3 linked regions of the Homo sapiens genome follow. The protein of the gene in region 2 interacts with the protein of the main gene of each other region in a biochemical or structural test. Each region holds a gene or a part of one and is shown on either strand. Other genes may lie near its edges.

Region 1 (7,623 bases), on a different chromosome or scaffold from region 2:
ATCAGTGAGTCTCGGATGTCTGCGGGGACACACCGTGCCTCAGCAGGGGCTTGGCATGAGCCCTGGACCCATACTTCATGCCCACCTGGCCACATTTTTCATAGAAGAAAGCCGACCAGAGGTGCCATCCCATCCCCCTCCCCCTGTACCCTCTGTAGGGGCCCCTCACCAGTGCCCACAATGCGTGCGTCGGCAAAGTGTTTGGCGAGAATGGCAGCCAGGCGGGTCAGGGTCTCTTCATAGCCTGCAAGGGTGGGAAGTGAGACGTGTCGGCTGGGAGTGGGGGCTCCAGAGGCAGGCATGTCAGCAGGGTGGGTGGACTTGGGTAGCAGGCTCTAGAGCTGGCTCCCAAGGCCAGCCTGGACCCAGGGTGGCATCTGGGGACATCGGGCAAAGCATTCATTGGTGGCTGTGCAAGGGCTAAGGCACAGGCTCACTGTGAAGGGATGACAGGCCCTGGCAGGAGCCCTGACCTGGGCTCAAACCCATCTCAGCACACACACCTGATGAGCAGTCAAAGCTCCTTGGGCACTCACAGCTCTGTCTTTGAAGACAAAGCCTGCACTGAGGCCTGTGGCTGGGCAGGGGGCAGGCTAGGGGCCTGACAGCTCACTGCCTGATCCAGACATACACTGCCACGCCCAGCCTGGAATCAGCAGGCTGAGAGGCCCAGGTTCGGATGTGGACCCTAGCAGGGTCCACCCCCTGCTGTGATTTACCAAGACAAACCATTCTGCCCCTGACCAACTGCTACGCTTTGTGACCAGTGCCAGGGAGTCAAGGTGCAAGGCCAGCTGGCTCCTGGACCATGGCAGTTGCTCATAGCACTAGGAAGGAAGTGAAAGCCAAGAGGTCTACACCCACCGTGTTCCATCTTGTCTGTTTTCCTTTGCTAGGGAGCTGTTGGCTCTGTGGCTGCAGGTCCCAGGGCAGGGTGCAGACGTTTGTTTGCTGCAGGGTGAACCACAGAGGAAGCTCCTCCCCTCCCCGCCCCCCACAGAAGTGTGTTGCTGGGCCACAGAGGTCTCAGACCAGGGCTCCTAGGGCTCACACTAGAGACCCCTTTTCTGCTTCTGCCTCAGCCTGAATGGTTCCATCACCTGGGAGCTCCTCCATGCTGTGCACGGGACCAAAGTAATTCTTGAGAGCACTGTAGCTGTTGATGGCCACGCTCAGGTAGAACTCGGGCATGAAGGCAAAGAGAGACCCTGTGCGATCACCGTGCTCAATGGTCCGCAGGCAGACGCGCAGCAGCCAGTAGATGTCCAGCATCTTCTCCTGCAGGAGGCACACGGGGTGCTGCTGGGTTGCGCACCAGTGGGGTCTTGGGGGCATGTCCTGGCCTGGGGATCAGGAAAGGCCTCCCCAGGCCTACGACAGCACAACTGAGACCTGGATTTCAGGAAGCATGAGCAGTAGCTCAAGCAGGGCAATCAAGTCCTCAGCAGGCAAGAGGGACGCACTCAGCCTGGAGGGCGCATTACTGTGACCCAGGCCAGAACTCTGGTCAGCATATTTGTAAGCAAGTTTTTTTTTTTTTTGAGATGGAGTCACCCAGGCTGGAGTGCAGTGACGCCCTCTTGGCTCACTGGAAACCTCCGCCTCCCAAGTTCAAGGGATTGTCTTGCCTCAGCCTCCCGAGTAGCTGGGACTACAGGTATGTGATACCGCGCTCGGCTAATTTTTGTATTTTTAGTAGAGATGGGGTTTCGCCATGTTGGCCAGGCTGGTCTTGAACTCCTGACCTCAGGTGATCTGCCTGCCTCAGCCTGTAAGCAAGTTTTAGGCAAGAGGGTGCTGTGACTGGAAGTCTGTGTGGAAAAGTGGAGTACAAGGTGTGTGAAGGGCCCAAGAGAGCTGGCGATGGTAAGCAGACAGGCAGAAATTTGATCTGGAGTGCAAAGGAGAAGGTGGTGGGAAAGCAGGGGGCAGTGTGACTGGTGGAACAGAGGTCACAGGAAACAGACAAAACCTGCTGAGGGCCCTGCTCCCCACAATGTGGTTTCCACAAAGTCTATGTCAGGGTCTCACAAAGGAGCCCAGGCAAGAATGAGGCCTCAGGCCCCAGCCCAGACCCACAGCACCCGTGTGTCTTGGAGTGCGGTCACAGCACCTGGGCTTCACACCAGCTCTCTGATGTGCCCTAAAGCCCAAGGAACTGAGGAGAAGATGTAAGCAAGAGGTTAGGGGAGGGCCTAGGCGCAAACCTAGGCAGCGATGATCCTGCTGCTACAGAAGGCCAGCGAAGACTGTGTCTGGTGAGGGGCTGGCAATGGCCCCATCAGAGCTAAGGTATCAATGCAAAGGAGATGGAAATGTGCCGGCCGGATTGAGATGGGGGCAGACAGAGACCCTGGTGAGACTATTTCAGAGATGGGGAAGAGCCTGTGCTGGAGGGAGATGAAGGGGAAGATGTAGCAGCTAAGACAGAGAAAGAAGGAGAGAGCATAACTTTTGGGCACATATAGCGTCAAGGCTGGAATGCAGTGGCACAATCACAGCTCACTGTAACCTGGAACTCCTGGGCTCATGTGATCCTCCTACAGGTATGTGATACCACGCCCTGCTAATTTTTGTATTTTTAGGAGAGATGGGGTTTCGCCATGTTGGCCAGGCTGGTCTTGAACTCCTGACCTCAGAGTAGCTGGGACTACAGGTATGTGTCACCATGCCCCGCTAATTAAATTTTGTTTTTTTTGTAGAGATGGGTTGCCCAGGCTGGTCATGAACTCTTGGCTTCAAGTGATCCTCCCGCTTCAGCCTCCCAAAGTGCTGGTTTACAGGAGTGAATCTCTCCATTAATAATGGGATTAGAAAGACACAGGTGAGTTAGTGCTGAAGATGCAGAGAATGAAGGCAGTTCAACATAATAAAGACCATATATGAAAAGCCTCCATCTAACATCACACTCAGTGGTAACAGACTATAATCCCTCCCTCCCTCAGACCAAGAACAAGACAAGTGTGCCACTTTCTCTACTTCTGCTCAGCACAGTCCTGGAAATCCCAGCCAGAGCAACTAAGCATGAAAAAGAAAGGAAACCACACTGGAAAGGATAAAGTAAAATTATCTCTGTTCACAGACATGATTTTATAAGTAGAAAATCCTAAAGATACACACACACACACAAAACCCCAACTAGGATTAATAAATAAATTCAGCAAAATTATAGGATATGGCCAGGCGCGGTTGCTGAAGCCTGTAATCCCAGCACTTTGGGAGGCCGAGGCAGGCGGATCACCTAAGGTCAGGAGTTTGAGACCAGCCTGACCAACAAGGTGAAACCCCATCTCTACTAAAAATACAAAAATTAGCCGGGCGTGGTGGCGTATGCCTATAGTCCCAGCTACTCAGGAGGCCGAGGTGGAAGAATCGCTTGAACCTGGGAGGCAGAGGTTGCAGTGAGCCAAAATCTTGCCACTGCACTCCAGCCTGTGCCACAGAGCGAGACTCCCTCTCAAAACAAAACAAACAAACCAACAAACAAAAGATATGCAAATGGCCAATAAGTGCTTGTAAAGGTACTATTTGTCATAATGTCACTAATCATTAGCAAAATGCAGAACCACAATAAGGTACCATATCCTACCCATTAGGATTTACTATTAAAAAAGTAGAAATTGCCGGGTGTGGTGGCTCATGCCTATAATCCCCGCACTTTGGGAGGCCGAGGCAGGAGGATTCCTTGAACCCAGGAGTTTGACAACTGGGCAACATAGTGAGACCCTGCGTCTACCAAGAAAAAAAAAGGGCAGAAAATAAGAAGTGTCGGTAAGGATATGTATGGAGAAATTGGAACCCTCATGCACTACTGGTGAGAATGTAACAGGCACAGCCACTGTAGAAATGATATGGTAGTTTCCAAAAAATTAAACAACAGAATTGGCCGGGCGCGGTGGCTCATGCCTGCAATCCCAGCACTTTGGGAAGCCGAGGCAGGCGGATCACCTGAGGTCAGCAGTTCAAGACCAGCCTGACCAACACGGTGAAACCCCATCTGTACAAAAAATACAAAAATTGCAGGGCGCGATGGCTCACGCCTGTAACCCCAGCACTTTGGGAGGCCGAGGCGGGCGAATCACCTGAGGTCGGGAGTTCAAGACCAGCCTGATCAATATGAAGAAACCCCATCTCTACTAAAAAAAAATACAAAATTAGGCCAGGCGCGGTGGCTCACGCCTGTAATCCCAGCACTTTGGGAGGCCGAGGCGGGTGGATCACGAGGTCAGGAGATCGAGACCATCCTGGCTAACACGGTGAAACCCTGTCTCTACTAAAAATACAAAAAATTAGCCGGGCGTGGTGGCAGGCGCCTGTAGTCCCAGCTACTCGGGAGGCTGAGGCAGGAGAATGGTGTGAACCCGGGAGGCGGAGCTTGCAGTGAGCTGAGATAGCGCCATTGCACTCCGGCCTGGGTGAAAGAGTGAGACTCTGTCTCAAAAAAAAAAAAATACAAAATTAGCTGGGCGTGGTGGCACATGCCTGTAATCCCAGCTACTCAGGAGGCTGAGGCAGGAGAATTGCTTGAACCTGGGAGGCAGAGGCTGCCGTGAGCCGAGATCGCGCCATTGCACTCCAGCCTGGGCAAGAAGAGCAAAACTCCACCTCAAAAAAAGAAAAAAAAAATCACAAAAATTAGCCGAGCATGGTGGTGCGCACCTGTAGTCCCAGCTACTCGGGAGGCTGAGGCAGGAGAACACTTGAACCCAGGATGTGAGCCGAGATCGCACCATTGCACTCCAGCCTGGGTGACAGAGTGAGACTCCATCTCAAAAAAAATAAAAAATTAAAATTAAAAATAAAATAAAAAACAGAATTACCATATGATACAGTAATTCCACTTCTGGGTATATAACCAAAAGAATTGAAATTAGGGTCTCAAAGAGATCTTTGCAAACCCATGTTCATTACAGCATTATTCACAGTAGCCCAAAGTAGAAGCAACCCGAGTGTCCATCAGCAAAGGACTGGATATATGAAATGTGGTGTCCGTACAACAGAATATTATTCAGCCTGGAAAATGAAGAAATTCTGACACATGCTATAACACGAATGAACCTTGAGGACATTATGCTAAAGCCATACACAAAAGAACAAATAGTGTATGATTCTTCCTAGATGAGGTGCTTAGTATAGTCAAATTCAGAGACAGAAAGTAGGATGGTGGTTGCCAGGGGCAACCTGAGCTAGCCTCAGAACAGGGCCATGGTGGTCCCCTCATGACATGGAAGTAAGGCCCAGCTGGGGGTCTGTGAGCCGCTGGCCAGAGCACTCAGGGACCTGATGCCAGAACCACTGCTCCCCCAGCTGCCAGACCCAGGGATCTGCTGACAGGTGGGGATGGGTGGGAGCTGTCAGGGAAGCTGGGGAAGGGAGGACAGGAGGTTTTGTTCAACAGGCACGGAGTATCAGTTTTGCAAGATGAAATGAGTGTGGAGATTGGCTGCACGACAATGTGAATAGACTTAACACTTAAAAATGGCTATGATGGGTGACCGGGCACAGTGGCGCACGCCTGTAACCCCAGCACTTTGGGAGGCCGAGGTGGCAGGATCACATGAGGCCAGGAGTTTGAGACCAGCCACGCCAACAAAGTGAAACCCTGTCTCTACCAAAAAATACAAAAAGTAGCTGGGCGCGGTAGCACATCTATAATCCAGGAGAACTGCTTGAACCCGGGAGACAGAGGTTGCAGTGAGCCAAGATCATGCCATTGCAGTCCAGCCTGGGCAACAGAGTGAGACTCTGTCTCAAAAAAAACACAAAACAAAACAAAACAAAAAAAACACAGCTAGGATGGTACATTTTATGTCACACATATTTTAGCATAACTAAAAAAAGGCAGAGAGATGAGAGGGCAAGGGTCTTGAGAAGACAGTGTGGGAGAGGGCAGCCAAACTTCTGAGGGAGGTGGGCAGGCAGGAAATCTCAGGGCAGAAGGGAGAGGAAGTTCCCGTCATGGGGCAGTAAGCACGGTCATCCAGGGTAGCAGGAGAGTCACGAATGGGAAAAAGGTGGAGGTGGTTTGGGTTTTGCAAAAGAGCCATGAGAAGAAACAGCAAGCAGAGATGATAGAAATGGGGATACCAAAGGCCTCGATCACCCAGTCATGCAGGGGTATGCCCAAGAAGACAGCAGATACCCTGACCTGGGCACCTGAAGAGACCCTCAGGGCACTCACTGGTTAGGGAAGAGATGCCAAGAGGGGCAGGGAGAGGAAACAAGTCCAGAGAGTCTGAGGCCTGGGGGTGAAACTTCAGTCACAGCAGGAGTGCCCCATCCATCTGTCTGTCCATCCATGTATCTGACCAGGCTGAGTGCCTTCAGAAGGCAGAGGCTCATCTTTCTGACTTATTAATGTGTGTGTGTCCCTAGTTCCAGGACAGCACCTGGCACACACCAGGTTTTGAGTGCATGTTATTGAATGAATGAGCAAGTGAATGAGTGAGTGGGGAACAAGCCAGTGGCCTCGGGTGGTAATGAGTCAGACAGAGGCAGGCACAGATGGTGGAGTGTGCCTCCGGGAAAGACTGCAGAGCCCCTGATGCACTGGGAGAGAAGGACGGGGGCCAAGAAACTGGGAGGGGGTGGGAGCAGGGGAGGCAGACAGACAGAGTTTGTTCCTCGAAGGACAGGTCTATGAGGCGAACTGGAGGTCCAGAAACTGCGCTTCCTCAGTCCACAGAGCATGAGGGGTACAGGGGACATGGCATGGGGTGATGGAGTCTGAAGTGTGGGAAGGGACATGTGTGTGCCAGAGGCCTGAGAGGGTGGGGGCATCAAGGGCCCTGGCACAATCTTGCTAGACCCGTGGCCAGACAGTGAGGTCGGGAAGGGGCAGCTGCAATACCAGCACACCTGGGAGTAGACAGTGGCATGGACCCAGGCAAGACGGCGGCTCAGGTGGTCCAGCTTTTCTGAGAAAACCTTCTGGCTCTTGGTCAACTCTGCAAGGATGTCCTTCCTCTGCCACCCAAGGGGAAAGGAGGACAATCAAGACATGGCCCCATACCCAGGTCCACCCTGATCCTGCAGGCAGCCTAGGAAGGGCCCTCTAGTGCCTGGAGCAGGCAAGGGATTGGGCTCCATTTTTCAAAACCTTCTTCTGCCACTGACCCTCTGGTGACCCTGAGCCAGCCTCAGAACAAGGCCATGGTGGTCCCCTCATGACATGGAAGTGAGGCCCAGCTGGGGGTCTGTGAGCCGCTGGCCAGAGCACCCAGGGACCTGATGCCAGAACCGCTGCTCCCCCAGCTGCCAGACCCAGGGATCTGCTGACAGGTCGGGGTGGGTGGGGGCTGTCAGGGAAGCTCAGCCTGGACACACTGGGCCCCACCTTCCTGGGCTAGGGCAGCTACAGCAGAGGGCTCCGGAGGGTGCAGTGGAGCCAGGCCCTGCTTCCTGCTGACTCTGCAAGTGGCCGAGGAAGCACTCAGGGTCAATGAATAATTGATGAGGAGAGTGGGTGTGCTTCAGCACTTATTGGGCCCAGGGGGTGGGGGGCACCTAGGCACAGGCCACACTGGTGATGGGTGCCAGGCCTTGCTGCCAGCCCCACTCTCACTGGCGTGCTATGGCCAGGGCTAGAGTGGGGATGAGAACTGCCAGGGCAGCCCCCAGAAC
Region 2 (7,623 bases):
GGACTTCACTTTCTTGTGTTCTTTCTTCTTTCCTGTAGAGGCAAAAGAGGCAGGAAGTTTAAGCATTACCTGTGTTTGAGCTGATTTTATTCTTTGCCTCTTTGCTAAAAATAGTGCTGTCAAAGGAAAAGACTATAATTTCATATTCTGAACTAATCTGCCAGATTTGCCCTGGTAGACAAAGCTTATTGAGATATAAACAATCTGGATCAAAATAAATAATCACAAGTCATATTAATTAAAAGTTTACAAAAATCAAGTTGTATTTATAATTTTTAAAGGACATTTATTTCACATACTATCCTTAAAAAATATTTAAACATCATGATCAAATTTTAAGATACTATACAGTCTACTAAAAATATAGTCAAAATATTTGCTTTAAAGTTGCCCTGAGGTCAGATTAACAAAAACTGCGAACAATTTAAATGCCTATCAATAGAGAACAGAGAAAATATGCCATATTTAAATGCTACCACTATGTATTAATTATGAAGAATAAACAGATATGTAATTAACAGGATTAGATTTCAAAAATAATGGAGTAAGAAAAAGCAAGTGATAAGATTTAGCATACTGTTTATATAAATTTTTTATTCTTAAAGTATAAAATAATACCATGTATTAGACAGATGTGTATGTGAAATATAAAACTTGAAAGACAGGCATTGAATTAATAATAGTAGTTACTTCTGTGGAGGTGATAGGTACAGGTAAGTACGAGAAACTTTGCCTTTACTTGTAATACTTTATTCTCTCAGAAAAATGAGATTTGTAGCAAAAAAGACAAAGTTAACTTGCAATTTCAGGTGATGGAAAATTATGAATTTGTACTATGTTGCTTCTTAGAATTTTCAATAAAAAGTATTTAAATCAAATTACAGAATTACTCTAATGACACGAATAAAATTTGTGTATCTTGCCAATATTGTTTTAAATTTTACTTTCTTCATGGTCACTGAATTTTGAGTGTGAAAAAATTCCATACATTTGATTAACATCATTTAAAATTTTACCTTCTTCATTGTCACTGTATCTGTCAGAATCATTACTTCCATTCTGCCTTGTATTTTCTGCTGAAGAAGAAATTGTTGGCAGAGGAGTAGAAGATCTTGATTCTGTTCCTTGTTCCCTCAGTTTCAAAAGCTTTTTCTCATATAGCTTCCTGGTTGTTCCTGGATTAAGGCAGAACTTGCTTTAGTACCTGTATTGTTTCATTTAGGATGCAGCTCAGACACTATCTTCAGCAACATTTTAAGCTATTTTCACCCTTTATTTTTCTAAACTCAAGTTCTTAAAAAAAAAAATACCATATAATGCGGCCAGACATAGTGGCTCACGACTGTAAACCCACCACTTTGGGAGGCTGAGGCGGGTACATTACTTGAGGTCAGGAGTTCGAGACCAGCCTGGCCAACACAGGGAAACTATCTCTACTAAAAATACAAAAATTAGCCGGGCATGGTGGCACACGCCTGTGATCCCAGCTACTTGGGAGGCTGAGACAGGAGAATCACTTGAAATTGGAAGGCAGAGGTTGCAGTGAGCTGAGATCGCACCACTGTCCAGCTGGGAGAGGAAGTAAGATGCTGTCTTAAAAAAAAAAAAAAAAAAAAAAAGGACGTGGTGGCTGATGCCTGTAATCCCAGCACCTCCAGAGGCCAAGGCGGGTGGATCACCTAAGGTCAGCAGTTCAAGACAAGCCTGACCAACATGGTGAAACCCAGTCTCTACCACAAATACAAAAAATTAGCTGGGCCTGGTGGTGGGCGCCTGTAATCCCAGCCACTCAGGAAGCTGAGGCAGGAGAACTGAACCCAGGAGATGGAGGTTGCGGTGAGCTGATATCGCACCATTGCATTCCACACAACTATATAATGCACTCTTTTTACAACAGGTGGTTTTTTGGGAAATGACATTTCTTTTAATAGCATGAAATACATAGTAGGTTAATACAGGCCTTTCTATAGACCATCTACTGAAAAGCCATGTATGACTATTTTTGACTGAAGTCTTGCATTTATTTTCTCTACTACTACGTAATAGTACTTGCCAAGGTAGAAAAATCACATGTAAGCGGATTGTACCTCTATGAAAAATAACTATGATTAAATTTCCACAACTCTAAGACATTAATATGCCTGTATTCAGTTATGGGGAAAAGAAAAGTTCTATAAATCAGATTTAAATATAACAACTTTGCAGTTAAAATGACCTTTTATGGAAAACACATATCACAAAGCAAAATTGATTACAAATTCTTAATACATTTGAACATCAGTGACAGTTTAAAACCAAAATAGATTTTGTTTTACATTAACTGTATTATCTTTCCTTAACTCCTGGTAAGATGAGCAAAATGATAATGGATATTTTTTAGAAGCAACATGTGTCCAGAAATGTTATATAAATAGCCTTAAGATGAACAGGTCATACATCAACATATAATTTAATGTAGGCTGATATTATAACACACATTTTTCAGTGTCTCCCTTTTGGAATTTCTTTTTTTTTTTTTGAGACAAGGTCTTGCTCTGTTGCCCAGGCTGCACTGCAGTGGTGCGATCATAGCTCACTGCAACCCTGAACTTGTGGGCTTAAGCAATCCTCCCACCTTTGCCTCCTGAGTAGCTAGGACTACAAGTGTGCACTACATGCCTGGCTACTTTTTTTTTTTTAAATAGAGACAAGGTTTCACTATGTTGTCCAGGCTGCTCTTCAACTCCTGAACTCAAGCAATTCCACCACCTTGGCCTCCCAAAGTGTTGGGATTACAGGCATGAACTACCATGCCCAGGCCTTTTAGAACTTTAAACAAAAACATTTTTTAAAAGTGTTATATATCTGTTGGTACTTGTATATGAATAAGCTTATGATTATTTGGAAGCAGCTTATACATTAAAACAAAATATTCTAAATCTTTATTTGCAACTATACCTATAGCAAAACCTACCAAATCTCTAGCGTCCACAATTTTAGGTAACTTAGAAGATCAAGACCAGATGCAGTGACTCATGCCTGTAATCCTAGGACTTAGGGAGGCCTAAGTGGGAGGACTGCTTGAGCCCAGGAGTTCAAGACCACCCTGGGCAATATAGTGTGCCCCCATCCCTACAAAAACTACAAAAATTAGCCGGGAATGGTGGCACGTGCCTGTGTTCCCAGCTACTTGAGAGGCTGAGGTGGGACTGCTTGAGCCTAAGCTGAGGCTGCAGTAAGCCATGACTGTGCCACTGCACTCCAGCGTGGACAACAGAGCAAAGACCTTGTCAAAAAAAAAAATAATAATAAAATGGAATTTTCTCATCTTGAGGTTATTGCTAAGACCCTCCAAAACTAAGGCATAATCAACACTGCAAAATCTTCATCACCTAAAAGTAATCCAACGATGGAAATCCAGTGTATTTAGTCCTAGGTTTTTGTTTTTTAAGGGTATAATTCCTCAATTCCAATCAAGATAGGACTTTCAAAAGGGTACTTTTAATGATAAATGAAAAAGGGGCTCAGCGCGGTGGCTCACACCTGTAATCCCAGCACTTTGGGAGCCTGAGGTGGGTGGGATCACCTGAGGTCGGGAGTTTCAGACCAGCCTGGCCAACATGGCAAAACCCCATCTCTACTAAAAATATAAAAATTAGCCGGGCATGGTGGCAGGTGCCTGTAATCCCAGCTATTCGGGAAGCTGAGGCTGGAGAACTGCTTGAACCTGGGAGGCAGAGGTTGCAGTGAGCCAAGATCACACCATTGTACTCTAGCCTGGGCAACAAGAGCGAAACCCCGTCTCAAAAAAAAAAAAAAAATAGGGTACTAGGCTAGGAATTTAATAACTTCATTAAGAAGAAGTCTGTCACTAACTCACTTTTTCTTTTTCCCTTATTTATTTATTTTTTTTGAGACAGGGTCTTGCTCCACTGCCCCTGGCTGAAGTACAGTAGCCATCACGGCTCACTGCAACTTTGACTTCCCCCCACCATCTCAAGCAATCCTCCTGCCTCAGCCTCCTAAGTAGCTGGGACAATAGATTTGTGACACCACACCCTGCTAATTTTAAAATTTTCTGCAGAGATGGGATCTCCCTATGTTGCTCATGCTGTTCTTCAACTCCTGGGCACAAGCAATCCTCCCATCTTGGCCTCCCAAAGTGTTGGGATTACAGGTGTGAGCTACTGCGCCCGGCCATTAACTCATTTATTTGGGCAAATTTGCCCAGCTATGTTACCTCAGATTTTCCTCAATTGTCATACAAGACCCACGTCTCAGCAGAAGTACGATATAAGTGGCCAGGCACGGTGGCTCACACCTGTAATCCCAGCACTTTGGGAGGCCGAGGCAGGCGGATCACAAGGTCAGAAGATCGAGACCATCCTTGCTAACACGGTGAAATCCCATCTCTACTGAAAAATACAAAAAATTAGCCAGGCGTGGCAGCGGGCGCCTGTAGTCCCAGCTACTCAGGAGGCTGAGGCAGGAGAATGGCATGAACCCGGGAGGCAGAGCTTGCAGGGAGCCGAGATCGCGTCACTGCACTACAGCCTGGGCGACAGAGCAAGACTCCGTCTCAAAAAAACAAAAAACAAAACAAAACCAAAAAAAAAAAAAAAAAGTACGATATAAGCACCATATAAAACAATCTCAACAATAGAGGTAATTTTGGAGATTATCTAATTCAATCCTCTCATTTTATTTCACTCATTTACAGTCAAAGAAACACAGGTTCTGCTGATAACAAATGATTAATGACAAACCAGTCCTTGGAACCTAAACTGCTAAACAAAAAGGAGAAAATAATTTGGGGTCCTGCTTCAGAGAAAAGATACTGTATTTGAAATTTTATCAACTTACCCACAATAGGACCAGGATTCACTCCGTATTTCACAAGCTGATCCAAAAGATCTTCATTAGTGAGCTCTGTTACATCTAGATCATCTTTATCTTCTTGTCTGGGTTTATCAGTTTTTTTTGTGGCTTTCTGTAAACAAAGTCCAGTAATCATTTCCATATGAATTAAAGTGTTCACTTACTAGATAATAACCTGTATAACATAAACATGCAAACTCACTACCAAATTGGTTTATAGTAATATTAGGCCTTAGCAATTCCATTAAATTAAGAGCAACTCATTATTGGAGAACACTTTCTAAGTTGAACTGTAATCATACAAACCGCACAGCCAAGCAAGTAACTTAAAGACATTGTTGTTAAAATAGTCCATTTTGGATTACCTATCTAAAAGAGATAGTAATGGCATCAAAAATGCAAAAGAGCAACTAAAAGTAAAACTGACTTTGGGTAACATTTTCTTTTAAATAACCTTTTTTTTTTTTTTTTTAATGATACAGGGTCTAGCTATGTCACCCGGGCTGGAGTACAGTGGCTCCATCTCAGTTCACTGCAACCCCCACCTCCCAGGCTGAAGCGATCCTCCCACCTCAGTCTCCCAAATAGCTGGGACTACAGGTGCGCACCACCACCCTTGGCTTTTTGCCTGTGGTTTTTTTTTTTTGTTTTTTTTTTTTTTTGTAGAGATGGGGTTTTTGCCATGTTGCCCAGGCTGGTCTCAAACTCCTGGACTCAAGTGATCAGCCCACCTTGGCCTCCCAAAGTGTTAGGATTACAGTTGTAAACCACTGCACACAGCCTAAATAACCAAAAATTATATTTCATTTCTTAAAGCATATAACTCCAATGGCAACGGAAACAGATCAGCATGAACCATGGAAAGTAAAGCCAGACTGGGCTTAACATTTTTCATCTAAATGATCATGAATGCTACTTACTAACTTTTTGATAATCCTTAAAAATTTAAATTAATCCAGGAAAGTTTAAGACTTTACCATACAGGCTTACACTTAGATACATATATAGAAATGATTTTCTTTTCTTTTTCTTTTTTTTTTGGAGGTGGAGTCTCGCTCTGTTGCCAGGCTGGAGCGCAGCGGTGCAATCTTGGCTCACTGCAACCTCCGACTCCCGGGTTCAAGCGATTCTCCTGCCTCAGCCTCCCGAGTAGCTGAGAGTACAGGTGTGCGCCACCACGCCCAGCTAATTTTTGTACTTTTAGTAGAGACGGGGTTTCAACATGTTGGCCAGAATGGTCTCGATCTCTTGACCTCGTTATCTGCCCACCTCAGCCTCCCAAAGTGCTGGGATTACAGGCATGAGCCACTGCGCCCGGCCAGAAATGATTTTCTTTAAACAGCATATGAGAACTTAAGAAGGCCAAATGAATACAGTTGGCTCTCCATTCTCCCAAATGAATACAGTTGGGTTCTACATATGTGAATTCAACCAACCACAGATCAAAAATACTTGGGGAAAAAAAAGACAATACGACAATAAAAACACTAACAAAAATACAGTATAACAACTATTTACATAGCACTTACATTGTATTAGGCGTTATAAGTAATCTAGAGATGATCTGAAGTATAAGGGAGGATGTGTGTAGGTTACTACACCACTTTATATTAAGGGACTTACTAAAGCATCCCCAGAGTTTGATATCCATGGCCGGGTCCTGGAACCAATCTCCACCCCAAGGATAGGAGACAGGACTGTAAACTCCTTGTAACACAGTTATTTTAGTAGCTAGTTTATGACTTAGGAAGGAAATCTGACAGACTTCATGGTTAAATTATCACCTGTGACACAGTTTAGTCACCAGATTAACTTCTGTACCACCAGTTTACTAAAAATAGTCAAAATAACTTGAAACAAACTTTGAGGGAAAATTTGAAAGTTTTAAAATTAATTTCTACAAAGGCAGTATTTACTGGAAAAACTATAAATTTCCAAGGTTGAACAAATAAAAAGGAAGCAAAAGTACGGATACCTTTTAAGGCTGTGGCAAACAGCCTGACAAATGCCTCAGTGATCACAGAAAAAACATCAGAGTACTGAACAAAAAAATGGCTAATTAAACAATGGCAACATCAAAGTAAATTTTACGAAAAAGGCTAAAATTATCAAGTTGTATGGAATGCTCACTTTCCAATAATATTAGGGGGAAAAATCAGTCATGATTTGACTATGTACTGGAATTACTGTTTTTAACAATAAAAATGTTCTGACCTAGAATTGTCAGGCTCAAATCAAATCTTTTTTTTTTTTTTTTTTGAGACTGTGCCTCACTCTTATCCAGGCTGGAGTGCAGTGGCGCAATCTTGGCTCACTGCAACCTCTGCATCCAAGGTCCAAGTGATTCTCCTGCCTCAGCCTCCTGAGTAGCTGGGATTACAGGTGTGCACCACCACGCCCGGCTAATTTTTGTATTTTTAGTAGAGACGGGGTTTCAGCATGTTGGCCAGGCTGGTCTTGAACTCCTGACCCCAAATGTTATGCCCGCCTGAGCCTCCCAAAGTCCTAGGATTACGGGCGTGAGCCATGGAACCTGGCCTGAAATACTTCAAATAAAGCAAGATATGAGAAATTCTTTTTAAAAAGCTGCTAATGGCTAATCATTCTATAATCAGAAGCCAAAAAACCTTCACCAAAAAAATAGCTGCTCATAAGAACAATTATGTCAACTTACGAGAAATCTTAAATAGACGGCTGTGGAGAGTTACAGTGAGAGTACTTTTAGCAGGCTTTAATTCACATACATTGCACTGACCTAGAACTGTC
Region 3 (7,623 bases), on a different chromosome or scaffold from region 2:
TGGTTTTCTCCAGACTGAATGATCCCAGAAAGAGCAAGGCGAAAATCCCAGAAGTCACACTCAGTCATTTTCATAAATCTTATTGGTTGCACTGGCTAGCTCTATTAGTTGGGAGGGATCTACATAACGTTAAGAGGCAGGAATGGAGACCATCTTTGAGGATGGTTGTCACCCTACTCTTGGCTCAGATAATAAAGATTGAAGGCAACCTAACCTAATTCCAGTTATCTTTTAATTTTTGGTACTCTGTGTTACTCCTTCAAATAAGACTCTTTTTTTTTTTTAGATCAGGCACGGTGGCTCACACTTGTAATCACAACACTTTGGGAGGCCGAGGCAGGAAGATTGCTTGAGGCCAGGAGTTTGAGATGAGCCTGGGCAACATAGCAAGACCCTTTCTCTATAAAAATTAAAAATAAAAAAGTTAGCTCTGCGAGGTTGAGGCTGCAGTGAGCCATGATTGTGCCACTGTGCTCCAGCCTGGATGACAGCGAGACTCTGGGATTTTTTTTTTGTTTTTTTTTTTGAGACGGAGTCTTGCTCTGTCACCCAGGCTGGAGTGCAGTGGCGCCATCTCGGCCCACTGCAAGCTCCGCCTCCCAGGTTCATGCCATTCTCCTGCCTCCGCCTCCCAAGTAGCTGGGACTACAGGTGCCCGCCACCACACCCGGCTAATTTTTTGTATTTTTAGTAGAGACGGGGTTTCACCTTGTTAGCCAGGATGGTCTTGATCTCCTGACCTTGTGATCCGCCCTCCCTGGCCTCCCAAGGTGCTGGGATTACGGGCATGAGCCACTGCGCCCGGCTGACTGGGAGGTTTGCTGGAGCCCAGGAGTTCAACATTGCTGAGCTATGATCATGCCATTGCACTCCAGCCTGGGCAACAGAGCAAGATCCTGTCTCAAGAAAATATATACTCTTTTTTAAAAAGGAGAAAGGAAAAGTATAAAACTGAGAAGCATTTGTTTTGTTTTGTTGAGACAGGGTCTCACTATGTTGCCCAGGTTGGAGTGCAGTGGCACAAAATCATAGCTCACTGCAGCCTCGCCCTCCTGTGCTCAAGTAATCCTCCCACCTCACCTCAGCCTCCCAAGTAGCTGTGACTACATGTGCATGCCACCATGCCTGGCTAATTTTTTATTTCTGAGATGAGGTCTCACTATGTTGCCACGCAGGTCTTGAACTCCTGGGCTCAAGTGATCCTCCCAACTCAGCCTCCCAAAGTACTGGTATTACAGACATGAGCCACAGCATTTGGCCTGCTTTTGTATTTTTGAGCAAAAAAAGTTGACGAGAGATTGGTTAAAAGCAAGGAGTGTTGCTGCAGAACTAGAAATCCATGGTCTCAAAGTGAGAGGATTGCTTAAGCCCAGGAATTCAACACCAGCATGGGTAACATAGTGAGACCCTGTCTCTCAAAACAAAAAAAGAAAAAGAAAACAAAAATTAGCTGGGCCTGGTGGTGCGTGGCTATAGTCCCAGCTATACAGGAGACTGAAGTAGGAGGATCACTTGAGCCCCGGAGGCTGAGGCCACAGTGAGCAGTGATTGTGCCACTGCACTCCAGCCTGGATGACAGTGAGACCCCCTGTCTCTAATAAAAATAGAAAGAAAGAAATCCGTGGGCTAGGCGTGGTGGCTCACGCCTGTAATCCCAGCACTTTGGGAGGCCGAGGTGGGCGGATCACGAGGTCAGGAGATCGAGACCATCCTCGCTAACACAGCGAAACCCCATCTCTGTGAAAAATACAAAAAATTAGCCAGGCGTGGTGGCAGGTGCCTGTAGTCCCAGCTACTCAGGAGGCTGAGGCAGGAGAATGGCGTGACCCCAGGAGGCGGAGCTTGCAGTGAGCCAAGATCGTGCCACTGCACTCCAGCCTGGGCGACAGAGCGAGACTCCGTCTCAAAAACAAACAAACAAAAAAAAAAAGAAATCTGTGATCTAACATTTAGCTTTATAGGGCCATATAGGGCATATTTTATTTTTTTCAACCAGCGCTAATCAGGCTGATAAATTGTACCAAGAGAACACTTTACAAACCAGCTAAGAATTTAGGCCGGGCGTGGTGGCTCACGCCTGTAATCCCAGCACTTTGGGAGACCGAGGCGGGCAGATCTTCTGAGGTCGGGAGTTTGATACCAGCCTGACCAACATGGAGAAAACCCGTCTCTACTAAAAATACAAAATGCGTAGTGGCGCATGCCTGTAATCCCAGCTACTCGGGAGGCTGAGGCAGGAGAATCGCTTGAGCCTGGGAAGTGGAGGTTGCGGTGAACCGAGATCGCACCATTGCACTCCAGCCTGGGCAACAAGAGTGAAACTCCGTCTCAAAAAAAAAAAAAAAAAAAAAAGAATTATTCATAATAGGAGCCAAAACTGGCTACAGAAGGGCCTGCTCTGCGATCTTTGCAGATGGTATTGTGGAACAGAATGTTAATGTGGTGCAGGGTATAGAGTTAGAGCAGAGATTGCCATTGATCTTGGAGGGTTTGATGGATCGTCTTTCCTTCCTAGGGAAGCACCAGGGCCCCTCTCGCCTGAACAGACACAGATATTTTGCTCAGCAGCTTGCTGACTGTATCTTGTGAGGGTGTGGTAGGCTGTCATTTGCAGTTGCAGTACTCACAGATCACATTACCTAAAGTCTGAGGCCATTTTACTGGTGGCCCAATTGCTGAAAGAACAAGTTTCCAGAGGCCAGTTGAGCAAACAGTGGAGACCGCAGGGGCTGGGTATTCCTTACATTATAAGGCTTTCCCCTGGGTGAACTCTTCAAAGCTGCTCTCAGTGTTTCTTATGGACAGCTATTAATCAACAATGCCTGGATTTTAGGCATCTCAGGAAGGTCCAGATCCCTGGAAGGAATCCATTTGAATGGATTTCTAGCCTCTTTACTTAGGGAAGGTAGAAGACTGGATCTGTATACCCTCGGTTTTATCCTGCCTCAAGTCCCAGTCCCTACTCTGGAAAGTGAAGATGAAGCTGGGTTCACAGCTCCGTCTTTGGAACCCTTGGAGCTAGATGTATTTTGGAATTCTAGCTTAAGAGAAGTCACGTGGGGTCTGGGGAAGCACCTTGTATTTAAATAGATTAATTCTGCACTAAGTAGGACAAAGAAAGATTATAAATGTCCTTACAGGTGAAAACAGCTCCAGCGTGAGTTTTGGCACCACACTGGTAGAAAACACTTGGTGTTCAGACCCTTTTGGACCTGGGGGAATTGCAGAGTAAGGAATCTTGCCCACCTGCCCTTATTGTCTGTGGTGAGGATGAAATGAGATCATTGCAGATAAATGTTCTTAGCACCCTGCAGGGAAAGCACTTGTTTGCTGTTGGCTGCTGCTGCTGTGGTCTTAAGAGATAAAATAGAGACACTGTCAACAAATAAGAGAACGCTTACCCAGGGGGAAGGCACTTCTGTAGGTTTTTGATGTAAACAAGCTGTTAAAGGCATAGGCTTTAATTTTCAGGTCATGAGTTGGCTCTGATGGGAAAGGCAAATACTGCCTCTTATGGTATCTGTCGTAATTTCAGTGCTGAGAGAAAATTATTCAAAAATATGTATTTCTGGCCGGGCGCAGTGGCTCACGCCTGTAATCCCAGCACTTTGGGAGGCCAAGGCGGGCGGATCACAAGGTTAGGAGATCGAGACCATCCTGGCTAACATGGTGAAACCCCATCTCTACTAAAAATACAAAAAAATCAGCCGGACATGGTGGCACGCGCCTGTAGTCCCAGCTACTCAGAAGGCTGAGGCAGGAGAATCGCTTGAACCCGGGAGGTGGAGGTTGCAGTGAGCCGAGATCGTGCCACTGCACTCCAACCTAGTGCGAGACTCCGTCTCAAAAAAATATATATGTATTTCTAACTGTAGAGTTGTTGTTTTTTCTTTTTTTAATGTAGTTTTAAAGCAAGTGTCAGGATTAGCATCAGTCATAGTCTGTAGGAGCACTGGTTTCTGATAGAGGTAGAAGTTTTCCTTACTTGGCACTAACTCATTTTATTTTATTTCATTTATTTATTTATTTTGAGATGGAGTCTTGCTCTATTACCCAGGCTTGAGTGCAGTGGCACGATCTCCACTCACTGCAATCTCCGCCTCCTGGGTTTAAGCAGTTCTTCTGCCTCACCCTCCCAAGAACCTGGGATTACAGGCAGGTGCCACCACACCCAGCTAATTTTGGGGTTTTGTTTGTTTGTTTTGAGACGGAGTCTTGCTCTGTCGCCTAGGCTGGAATGCAGTGGCATGATTTTGGCTCACTGCAACCTCTGCCTCCTGGGTTCAAGCGATTCTCCTGCCTCAGCCTCCTGCGCAGCTGGGACTACAGGCACACACCACCACGCCCAGCTAATTTTTGTATTTTTAGTAGAGACAGGGTTTCACCATATTGGCCAGGCTGATCTCGAACTCCTAACCTCGTGATCCACCTGCCTCGGCCGCCCAAAGTGCTGGGATTACAGGCGTGAGCCACTGTGCCCTGTAATTTTTGTATTTTTAGTAGCTAATTTTTGTATTTTTAGTAGAGATGGGGTTTCACCATGTTGGCCAGGCTGGTCTTGAACTCCTGGCCTCAACCAGTCCACCCCCCCTTGGCCTCCCAAAGTACTGTGAGTACAGGCATGAGCCACTGCATCCAGCCCTAATTCATTTTATGTTGAGAAATAGTTTGAAAGTTGAGAAGATAGGAAATTTTATGTATATATAATAATACTTATTTCCATATGACCATGCCACCCCAAATAATTACTTTTAAGAAATAATTGTTTTTTGTTTTTGTTTTTGTTTTGAGACAGGGTCTTGCTCTGTCACCCAGGCTGGAATGCAGTGGCGCAATCATAGCTCACTGCAGCCTTGACCTTCTGGGCTCAAGTGACACTCCCACCTCAGCCTCCCAAGTAGCTAGGACTACAGGCACATGCTGCCACAGCTGGCTTTTTTTTTTTTTTGTAGAGACAGGGTTTCACCCTGTTGCCCAGGCTGGTCATCTTGGCCTCCCAAAGTGTTGGGATTACAGGCATGAGCCACTGCCCGGCCCAGAAATAATTGTTATAATTGTTATACACACTTTTTAATGGGAAAACCAAAATAAAAAGCAGTTTCTGTTTCAGATTTAGAACAGGGAGGGGGGTATTATTTGCTTTAACATGGTTTTGAAGCTAACCTCCATCCTTGTTTGAATTCCAAGTGGCTCACCCTTCAGGGATTTGAATAGTTTCCTCATTTAACAGAATGATAACTTGGGTGTTCATTTCTCAAAATAGGCTACTGGCTTAAATGTTTAAAAATTTTTATTTGGGGCCAGGCTCTGTGGCTCACACCTGTAATCCCAGCACTTTGGGAGGTTCAGGAGGGTGGATTGCTTAAGCCTAGGAATTAAAGACCAGCCAGGGCAACATGATGAAACCCCATCTCTACAAAAAAGTATAAAAATTAGCTGCGAATGATGGCACGAACGTATAGTCTCAGCTACTTGGGAGGCTGAGGCAGGAGGATTGTTTGAGCCTGGAAGGTCGAGGTTGCAGTGAGCCGTGATCATGCCACTGCGTTGCAGCCCGGACAGAGTGAGACCTTGTTTTTAAAAAGTAAATAAATAATTTTTTAATCTAGTCCTCCTGGTATAGCAAGTTAAACATAGCCTGCCTTTCCATTGGGTAATATTTTCTGACGGTCTAATTAAACTGTGGAATCTAGAGGTTTTGGTGGCTTTTCGTTGAGAGAAGGGCCTGCTGGCAATCCTATACCAAAGGTTAGGTAGTCTCAGGTCATTTCCCTGTGACTTGCTTGTGGAAATTAACCCCACTGTCTTTATGTTTAGGCTTTGTCCAGGGATCTGAAACCACTTTGCAGTCGACATACTCGGATACCAGCGCTCAGCCCACCTGTGATTATGGTAAGTGTGGACTTCTGGTGGGAACCAAAGTGTTCTGCAGAGCAGTTCCTTGTCTTCTTAGTTGCCTTTGGCTTTGCTGTCACCCTGTCATGCTTTTTTAAACCTAAACTTGTGTGAAATGGTGTGGCCATTTGAATAGCTAGTGCTTCCCTTTCAGGCAATTATGGGAAAAGTAGCTGTGTTCCTGAGCAAGTTAGGCTCTTTGATAAAAGGCCTGGCTTCAAATCCCCATGGGGGAGGGACTGGGAGTCACAGTGGCCAATTAAAGTCCAAAGGAGGCCAGGCGCGGTGGCTCCTGCCTGTAATCCCAGCACTTTGGGAGGCCGAGGCGGGTGGATCACTTGAGGTCAGGAGATCGAGACCATCCTGGCCAACATGGTGAAATGCCATCTATACTAAAATACAAAAAATTAGCCGGGCATGGTGGTGTGTGCCTGTGGTCGCAGCTACTCAGGAGGCTGAGGCAGGGGAATCACTTGAACCCGGGAGGCAGAGGTTACAGTGAGCCGATATCATGCCACTGCACTCCAGCCTGGCAACAGAGCAAGACTCTGTCTCAAAAAAAAAAAAGTCCAAAGGATTGGTCCAGGAGAAAGCAAGCTATTAACTTAGTCCCAGCATAGTGCATGTCCTTGCTGTGGGAGAGAGGCTGAGTGTGTGAATCTGGCAGCTTTTGGAGACTCAGCCAGGCCACCTCAAGCCAGCAGGCTCCACACACACAGAGTTGAGTGAAGATCTCTGATTGAGTTTTCCAGCGTGGACAGAAACACCTAATTAGCTAATTCAGAAGTAGCCACCAGTAGGATTCACAGATGCTGTTTTGTTTGTGTGCTGTGGCAGCCCGGACTGCTGTTAAAGCTGGTTTTTGGTTGTCTGTGACTCTAGGGGTATCTGTTGAGAAGGAGCCCTCTTTGGAATTAACAGGGATAATGTCTTAGTTACTGAGATGGGTAATTTCTTTTACTACCAAGATCTGGGGAAAGACTGATCCTACACAGCTAACATGCCTTCAGGGGTCACTGCATAAAGAGACTTAAGTAAGCTCCCCAAGTAACAGCAGCTAGTCCCAGGAAAAGGGAAGACTTAAAATATTTTGAAATTGAGTGAGAAGGTATCAGGTGTCTCATAAATGAGGAGAAACTTGGTTTGCTTGACTTCCCTGTGCTGCCCTCCCTGCCTCTCCCTTTTCATCAAATGTAGTCCCTAATTGCACATCCTTTTGAATTATTTTCCCTCTGGATTGCATATTCTGAGTACAAGCCATTTCTCGGATATGCCATTTACAAATATTTTCTCCCAGACTGTGGCTTGTCTATTCTCTTGTCAGTGTGTCTTGTCTTGTGTCAGAAAGAACACAAGTTGTTAATTTTGAAGCCCAATTCAATCTTTTCTTTAATAGATGATGGTTTTGCTTTTATATCTAAGAAATCTGTAATATTTTCTTTAGAATTTTCTTTTAGGTGTTTTAGTTGTGGGTTTTACATTTAGTCTGTGATCCATATTGAGTTAATTTTTCTACAAGGTGTGCAGTATAGGTTAAGGTTTCTTATTCTTCTATGGCATATAAATATATAATTGTTCCAGCACCATTTGTTTAAAAAACAAAAACAAAAACAAAACCATTTTTTCTTTCTTTTTTTTTTTTTTTGAGACAGAGTCTCACTCTGTCCCCCAGGCTGGAGTGCAGTGGCGCGATCTCAGCTCACTGCAAGCTCCGCCTCCTGGGTTCAT

The links. The genes of interacting proteins can lie anywhere in the genome.
Region 1: of the proteins of TMPO (region 2) and RNF123, one has a biochemical effect on the other in vitro, tested with the Homo sapiens proteins (one study listed by BioGRID).
Region 3: the proteins of TMPO (region 2) and AKAP8L form a complex in vitro, tested with the Homo sapiens proteins (one study listed by BioGRID).

Annotation. Positions count from the first base shown.
Region 1 is NC_000003.12:49,706,134-49,713,756, reverse strand, and holds part of RNF123 (E3 ubiquitin-protein ligase RNF123), read right to left. Parts: intron 6,967-7,623; coding exon 6,859-6,966; intron 1,279-6,858; coding exon 1,101-1,278; exon of another isoform or gene 865-1,100; intron 245-864; coding exon 170-244; intron 20-169; coding exon 1-19. UniProt on the Homo sapiens protein: Catalytic subunit of the KPC complex that acts as E3 ubiquitin-protein ligase. Promotes the ubiquitination and proteasome-mediated degradation of CDKN1B which is the cyclin-dependent kinase inhibitor at the G0-G1 transition of the cell cycle.
Region 2 is NC_000012.12:98,525,232-98,532,854, reverse strand, and holds part of TMPO (thymopoietin), read right to left. Parts: intron 4,970-7,623; coding exon 4,843-4,969; intron 1,176-4,842; coding exon 1,017-1,175; intron 33-1,016; coding exon of another isoform or gene 1-32. UniProt on the Homo sapiens protein: May help direct the assembly of the nuclear lamina and thereby help maintain the structural organization of the nuclear envelope. Possible receptor for attachment of lamin filaments to the inner nuclear membrane.
Region 3 is NC_000019.10:15,408,789-15,416,411, reverse strand, and holds part of AKAP8L (A-kinase anchor protein 8-like), read left to right. Parts: intron 1-5,817; coding exon 5,818-5,892; intron 5,893-7,623. UniProt on the Homo sapiens protein: Could play a role in constitutive transport element (CTE)-mediated gene expression by association with DHX9. Increases CTE-dependent nuclear unspliced mRNA export.